Linked DNA regions of Homo sapiens. The protein of the gene in region 2 interacts with the protein of the main gene of each other region in a biochemical or structural test. Each region holds a gene or a part of one and is shown on either strand. Other genes may lie near its edges. The genes, in order: MST1 and ST14.

Region 1 (3,343 bases), on a different chromosome or scaffold from region 2:
GGGGCGTGGCTTGGCCGGGGAGGTAAGAGGGGCTGGGCGTGACCTGAGAGCATACCCCGTGGAGTACCGTACACCTGGGAAAGGCGGGTTTGGTCCCAGCCCCAGAGGGATCTCAGCTCTCGCTCGGGGCCCGACCTATCTCGGTCCATCTAAGGGTCCGAGGCACAGCCCCGCCAAGAGGCCACAACTGTCAGCTGCTTCCGCGGGAAGGGTGAGGGCTACCGGGGCACAGCCAATACCACCACTGCGGGCGTACCTTGCCAGCGTTGGGACGCGCAAATCCCGCATCAGCACCGATTTACGCCAGAAAAATACGCGTGCAAGTGAGGTGGGGGGGGGGGGCGGGCGTTGGGACGTGCTGCTGCGGGTGAGACGGGAGGAAGGTAGTCACGGGCTCAAGGCTGGAGGCTGGCGGGCTAGGGCTGAGTGGAGCGCCTGCTTAGAGACCTTCGGGAGAACTTCTGCCGGAACCCCGACGGCTCAGAGGCGCCCTGGTGCTTCACACTGCGGCCCGGCATGCGCGCGGCCTTTTGCTACCAGATCCGGCGTTGTACAGACGACGTGCGGCCCCAGGGTGAGGCCCAAGCTTGGGGGCTACAGAGCCGGGCTGGAAGCCTGGAACCGGAGGGCCGGGGCGAGGTCTCGGCCTGATGGCTGCCCGCACCCGCCACAGACTGCTACCACGGCGCAGGGGAGCAGTACCGCGGCACGGTCAGCAAGACCCGCAAGGGTGTCCAGTGCCAGCGCTGGTCCGCTGAGACGCCGCACAAGCCGCAGTGAGTCCCTGGTGCTCCCGGCCCCGCCAGGGCCCTAACCCTGGGGCGGCATGCTTTGGTGTCTGGGACCAGAGCCTGGAAATGGTTGAGACTACCCTGCCACGATTTTGCTCCCGCTTCCGCCTAGGTTCACGTTTACCTCCGAACCGCATGCACAACTGGAGGAGAACTTCTGCCGGAACCCAGATGGGGATAGCCATGGGCCCTGGTGCTACACGATGGACCCAAGGACCCCATTCGACTACTGTGCCCTGCGACGCTGCGGTGAGCACTAGTGACGCTTCCCCCATGACCCTGCCTCAGCCCCCACCCAAAGGCTGGCTCCCTTAACCCCAGTGAACTTTGTCTTTCAGCTGATGACCAGCCGCCATCAATCCTGGACCCCCCAGGTTAGGAGTTGGGCCAGTTATGGGTCAGGCCCTTTAGCCCACGACATCCACACAGTCTGGGTTTCATCCAGCCCACCCCATCCTACAGACCAGGTGCAGTTTGAGAAGTGTGGCAAGAGGGTGGATCGGCTGGATCAGCGGCGTTCCAAGCTGCGCGTGGTTGGGGGCCATCCGGGCAACTCACCCTGGACAGTCAGCTTGCGGAATCGGTGAGGCACAACTGCCTGTCTCCCACAGAGAGGAGCTGAGGTTGTGTCCTCTGTGGTTATCCCACTGGGGGCTGGGAATCTATCCCTGCCCCCAGAGGTCCTAGCCAGAAGATGGCAGGTCTAGCATCTGTCCCAGGAGTCTGTTACCTGTCCTAATTCCCCACTCCTCTAGGCAGGGCCAGCATTTCTGCGGGGGGTCTCTAGTGAAGGAGCAGTGGATACTGACTGCCCGGCAGTGCTTCTCCTCCTGGTGAGCCTCCCTTGTGTTTGGGGACCCAGTCTCATCCCACCTTCCCCCTTCCCCAGGCAAGCTAACAAGTGAGCCTTGGGGCAATGGACTGAGAGTCACAAATGACCTAGCAGAGCTTCTCTCCCAGCCATATGCCTCTCACGGGCTATGAGGTATGGTTGGGCACCCTGTTCCAGAACCCACAGCATGGAGAGCCAAGCCTACAGCGGGTCCCAGTAGCCAAGATGGTGTGTGGGCCCTCAGGCTCCCAGCTTGTCCTGCTCAAGCTGGAGAGGTATGTGGACAACCTGGGAGGGTGTGAGGTGGGGCTGGGCCTTGTGGCCTCAGACCCTGAGTGCCCCCATTCTTGCTAAAGATCTGTGACCCTGAACCAGCGTGTGGCCCTGATCTGCCTGCCCCCTGAATGGTATGTGGTGCCTCCAGGGACCAAGTGTGAGATTGCAGGCTGGGGTGAGACCAAAGGTAAGAGCACAGTGCACAGGACTGCTGGTGGCCAGGAGGCCCAGCCCTGGATCTTCCTGCAGGACCCTCTCCCTCTCCCCATTCCCCTCACTGCAGGTACGGGTAATGACACAGTCCTAAATGTGGCCTTGCTGAATGTCATCTCCAACCAGGAGTGTAACATCAAGCACCGAGGACGTGTGCGGGAGAGTGAGATGTGCACTGAGGGACTGTTGGCCCCTGTGGGGGCCTGTGAGGTTGGTGGCAGGGCCCTGGGCCAGCCCTGGAAGGGTATGGGGGGCTAGAAATGAACTATTTTATCATGAAGCAGGCTAGTCATTGCTGTGGCCCGGGGCCCTCATCAGTTCTCCTACCTGCCAGGGTGACTACGGGGGCCCACTTGCCTGCTTTACCCACAACTGCTGGGTCCTGGAAGGAATTATAATCCCCAACCGAGTATGCGCAAGGTCCCGCTGGCCAGCTGTCTTCACGCGTGTCTCTGTGTTTGTGGACTGGATTCACAAGGTCATGAGACTGGGTTAGGCCCAGCCTTGATGCCATATGCCTTGGGGAGGACAAAACTTCTTGTCAGACATAAAGCCATGTTTCCTCTTTATGCCTGTACAGATGCTTCTTAGCCTTTGCTTCCAGGAAATGTGTCAGTGACTCCTTGCTAGGGCTCGGGTGGCTTGAGCCCAGCACACCCTGGGCTAGGTGATCTGTCCAGCCTAGGGGCTTCCCCAACCAAGGCAATGTCCCTGGGACTACTTTTGCCCATGGGTGCCGTGGAAAGACAGGGCCTCACACTAGTCCTCCAGACATACTCTTGGGAAGGGTGGTACAGAGTAGTTGCTAATGGAAGGGGCTGCAGCAGGGAAGCTAGGCTGGTACAGAGTCCTGGTTGCCAGGACAGGCAGAGGCTAAGCCTCTCACTGTTCCCTCCCTTCTCACACTGGAGGCAGATGAAGCCCTTGTGGCTGCCACACCCAGAACCTAGGGTCTCTGCACCCCAGAGTGGGAGGTGGGGTTGGGGATGGTTTGGTACAAAGTACCAGCAGGAACCAGGCTCTGTGTCCTAATTTATTATGACTACATAGCCCACATTCCTCTGCCCACGCATCCGTGGAGTCCAGAGCCCAGAAAGCCTCCTGCTGCCCTGCCAGACCGTTGAGCTCCTCAAGAGCGAAGTGTGGCACAGGCTGATCAGCTCATGCAGAATGGCAGGGCTTCAGCTGCCCAAGTGTGTGCGTAGCCAGAGCACAGCATTCATGAAGCTGT
Region 2 (3,815 bases):
ATTCTGATTTCACGAGCTAGTGTGCCTTTCATTACTGACATTTTTATGGAGATACTTGTAGATTCCCATACAGTTGTAGGAAATCATACTGAGATCCTTGCCCAGTTTCTCCCAATAGTCACACCTCATAAAACTGTATCATAATACCACAACAGCAGTATCATCCGCGGATCTTATTCAGACTTCCCGTTTCACCGCTACTCACGTTAAGTATTAAGTTCCATCTATGTCATCGCTAGCGTAGTCCCCTGTCTCTGGCATCACAGTCAACATTCTGAACAGCTCCAACACGAGGATGCCCATGGCCTTCTGTAACCACAGCCACCTCCCTCCTGTCCCCCACCCCTTCAGCTCCACAATCGCTAATCTGTCCTCTACTACTAACATGGTGTCATTTCAAAAATTATGTTATATAGGCCAGGCGTGGTGGCTCATGCCTGTAATCCCAGCACTTTGGAAGGCCAAGGCGGGTGGATCACCTGAGGTCAGGATTTCAAGACCAGTCTGGCCAACATGGCGAAACCCTGTCTCTACTAAAAATACAAAAATTAGCTGGGTGTGGTGGCACACACCTGTAGTCCCAGCTACTCGGGAGGCTGAGGCAGGAGAATCGCTTGAACCAGGGAGGCGGAGGTTGCAGTGAGCCCAGATCACACCGCTGTACTCCAGCCTGGGACAGAGCAGGACTCTGTCTCAAAAAAAAAAAAAAAAAAAAAACCCATTATATTATATAAATAAATAATATGGTATGTATGGGACTGTTGGCTTTTTTTTTAACTGCACAAAATTCCCTGGAGGTCTTTCAAGTTGTTGCATCCATCAGCTTGTTCCTTTTCAGTGCTGAGTCATATTTCATGGCATGGAGGTGCCACAGTCTGTTTCTGACTTGGTGGACCCAGGGATCTGCAGAAGCTAGTGGGAAAAACCCAAGCCTGCCTGCAGCCTCTAGAACTGGGTAAGTTCTAAAACACGCTTCCATGGCTACAAATCTGAGCACCTGTTTTGGGGAAAGGACCAACTATGCAAACAGAGGGGCCCCACCCCCAGGGGAGGGCACCAGGAAGTCTGTGTCCTCTATTAGAACCAGACTCTATCCTGGGGGAATAGGATACAAGCGAGGGGAGAACTGCTGGATCTACCCTTGAAATTGGATTCTCAGAGCCGAGACAGATTCTGCAGGGCATGTCACCCACCTCTCATCCTCGCGAGACCATCCTTTTGGAAGAAATAGCATTTTCCTTAGTACGAGTATTAGGAAGCTCTTCCTTCCACCAAGTGTGATCAGCACTGCAATCACCTCTGCACTAATTAGCACTGCAACAGAACCAGCCTAGTTTCCCCACTCAGGAGACGCTCCAGTGGAAGCTCTACATCGGTGCTCGTGTGCTCTCTCAGTCTGCACCTCCTCTGGCTAAACATGCTCAACTCCTCTGATCATTCAAACAAAATGTTTTCTAAACCCTGGCCATCTGGTTCCATCTCACCCTTAGTCATCTTCCCTTGAAGACACCGTTTCCAGAATTCACCAGCATAACCCACAAGAGGTCTGACTAGCGTGGCCTCCACAGGGTCTGCTTGCCAATTACCTTCCTCATTCTGTTTGCTCTTTTTCTATTAATTGTCCAATGATGCATTCAAGTAACACACCCAAACAATAAAACGATTAAAATAAGAAGATGGAAAGAATGATATGTTCCCTCGATGAAAGCTTATAAGGCAATCAAAAATCGTTTTTCAAAAAGTAGATAATGACATGGAAAAGCTATCTAAGATAGAATGTTAAATGAAAAAAATAGGCTGGGCACGGTGGCTCATGCCTGCAATCCCAGCACTTTGGGAGTTCAAGGCAGGTAGACCACTCGAGGCCAGGATTCAAGACCAGCCTGGCCCATATGGTGAAACCGCCATCTCTACTAAAAATACAAAAATTAGCCTGGCGCAGTGGCGCACACCTGTAATTCCAGCTGCTTGGAAGGCTGAGGCAGGAGAATTGCTCAAACCCGGGAGGCAGAGGTTGCAGTGAGCCGAGATCGCGCCACTGCACTCCAGCCTAGGCGACAGAGCAAGACCCTATCTCAGAAAAAAAAAAAATAGTCACTCCTGCCCTTCGAAATTCAGCTCAGGCATCTCCTTGGAGTAATTCTGGGAGATCCCTCTCCAACACCTCCCTCCCAGACTCCTGTGATAGGGGAGGGAAGGGGGTCTGTCTTGCTCCACAAATCTAGCATGAGGTATGATATCTAATAAATGTTTGATAAGTTCATTAATAAAATCATATCTTTACTGCAGAGTGGAATTAGTGATGATTCCATTTGGAGGAGAATAGGTGTGCACACAAACAGCAGAACACACACACAAGACTTGTGGGAGAATATAAACAAAACTATTTATAGAGGCTCTAAAATCTGGGAGAGGGAATTTCAGAAGTTTCACATTTTACACTGTACATTTCTATATTGTGTGACTTCAAAAAGAAAAGCTTCCTAAATGTGGTAATGAGGAAAAAAATTTTTTTAGAAAACATGCATAGGCAATACCAAATTGTTAAAATGTCTTTGTAGGGGTATTTGTGTCATTTTTATTAAAAAAAATTTTTTTTGAGACAGAGTCTCGCTCTGTCACCCAGGCTGGAGTGCAATGGCACGATCTCGGCTCACTGCAACCTCCACCTCCCAGGTTCAAGTGATTCTCCTCTCTCAGTCTCCTGAGTAGCTAGGATTACAGGTGCCCACCGCCATGCCTGGCTAATTTTTGGATTTTTAGTGGAGATGGGGTTTCACCATGTTGGCCAGGCTAGTCTTGAACTCCTGACCTCAAGTGATCCATCGGCCCTGGCCTCTCAAAGTGCTGGGATTACAGGCATGAACCACCGCACCCGGCCTCATTTTTAAATTCTTACTACTTATCTGAGTTGGCTAAGTTTTCTTTAAATATGTATATATTAGACTTTTAATAATAACTTTAAAAGGTATAACCAAATAAAAACATAGGGGGAAGAAAGCACACTTCGACTTTGGGCAGTCACACTTCCATGCCTGATCTCTCCTGGGCTCACTGTCAACTCAGAACTCTGGGTCTCGTGGTTTCTGCTCCATGGTTGAGGGAGGTGGTTCAGTGAGCAAAGCACTGACTCCTGACCCAGACGGATGCATTCTGCTCAGCGCAGCCTATCAGACAGTCTGTCCAGATGCTCTGACTCATAATCAAGTCATACAAGGTATCAGCCTTTCCCTCCCAGCTGGTGTCATCTGTGGAGCTGGTAGGCAAATGCCCCAAGTCCTCATCTGAGCTGTTACTAAATAAGAAATGGCACAGAACCCAGGAAGGGGTGACGAGCAGCCTGAGGTCACCACCCAAAGTGACGTGGATTCAAGAACAGACCCCCCCTTAGGCACAGCCTTTCAATCAGACACAAGCCTACCAGAACTTCGATCCTCCAACACCCAGGGCTCCACACCCAGCAGACAGGAGGCCAATAAAACACCTTGTCCAGGATACAAGTGGTGTGTGCACAACAACCAACTAGACACATTGAACCATAGACAGCAAGGAGGGGAAAGAGGCGTGAAAAGTGATTTGTTGGCAGAGGTGGGTGAATTGGTTTTCATTTTAAAACTTCCGCCATAATTTTTAATCATATGTATAATACATAAAGCTGTGTCTATGTAAAGCATGTTGAAATCACAACTCCAGCTGTGCTCCTGGTCCACCAGCTAAGGAACCTCATCAAAAGGGGAAACCAGACAAGCTGGTCTATGATGTTTGTAGCACACCAGCACTGGCACCGGGTGATCACCACTTCCTTCTTATGTGCT

What was found.
Region 1: of the proteins of ST14 (region 2) and MST1, one has a biochemical effect on the other in vitro, tested with the Homo sapiens proteins (one study listed by IntAct).

What each region holds. Positions count from the first base shown.
Region 1 is NC_000003.12:49,683,293-49,686,635, reverse strand, and holds the end of MST1 (hepatocyte growth factor-like protein isoform 1 precursor), read left to right. Parts: intron 1-154; coding exon 155-323; coding exon of another isoform or gene 324-328; intron 329-443; coding exon 444-574; intron 575-673; coding exon 674-776; intron 777-903; coding exon 904-1,040; intron 1,041-1,129; coding exon 1,130-1,165; intron 1,166-1,253; coding exon 1,254-1,374; coding exon of another isoform or gene 1,375-1,414; intron 1,415-1,546; coding exon 1,547-1,624; intron 1,625-1,680; exon of another isoform or gene 1,681-1,751; coding exon 1,752-1,898; intron 1,899-1,979; coding exon 1,980-2,086; intron 2,087-2,182; coding exon 2,183-2,322; intron 2,323-2,446; coding exon 2,447-2,608; 3' UTR 2,609-2,689; downstream 2,690-3,343. Other genes in the region: APEH (acylamino-acid-releasing enzyme), read right to left, coding at 3,294-3,343.
Region 2 is NC_000011.10:130,165,995-130,169,809, reverse strand, and holds part of ST14 (suppressor of tumorigenicity 14 protein), read right to left. Parts: intron 1-3,815. UniProt on the Homo sapiens protein: Exhibits trypsin-like activity as defined by cleavage of synthetic substrates with Arg or Lys as the P1 site. Involved in the terminal differentiation of keratinocytes through prostasin (PRSS8) activation and filaggrin (FLG) processing.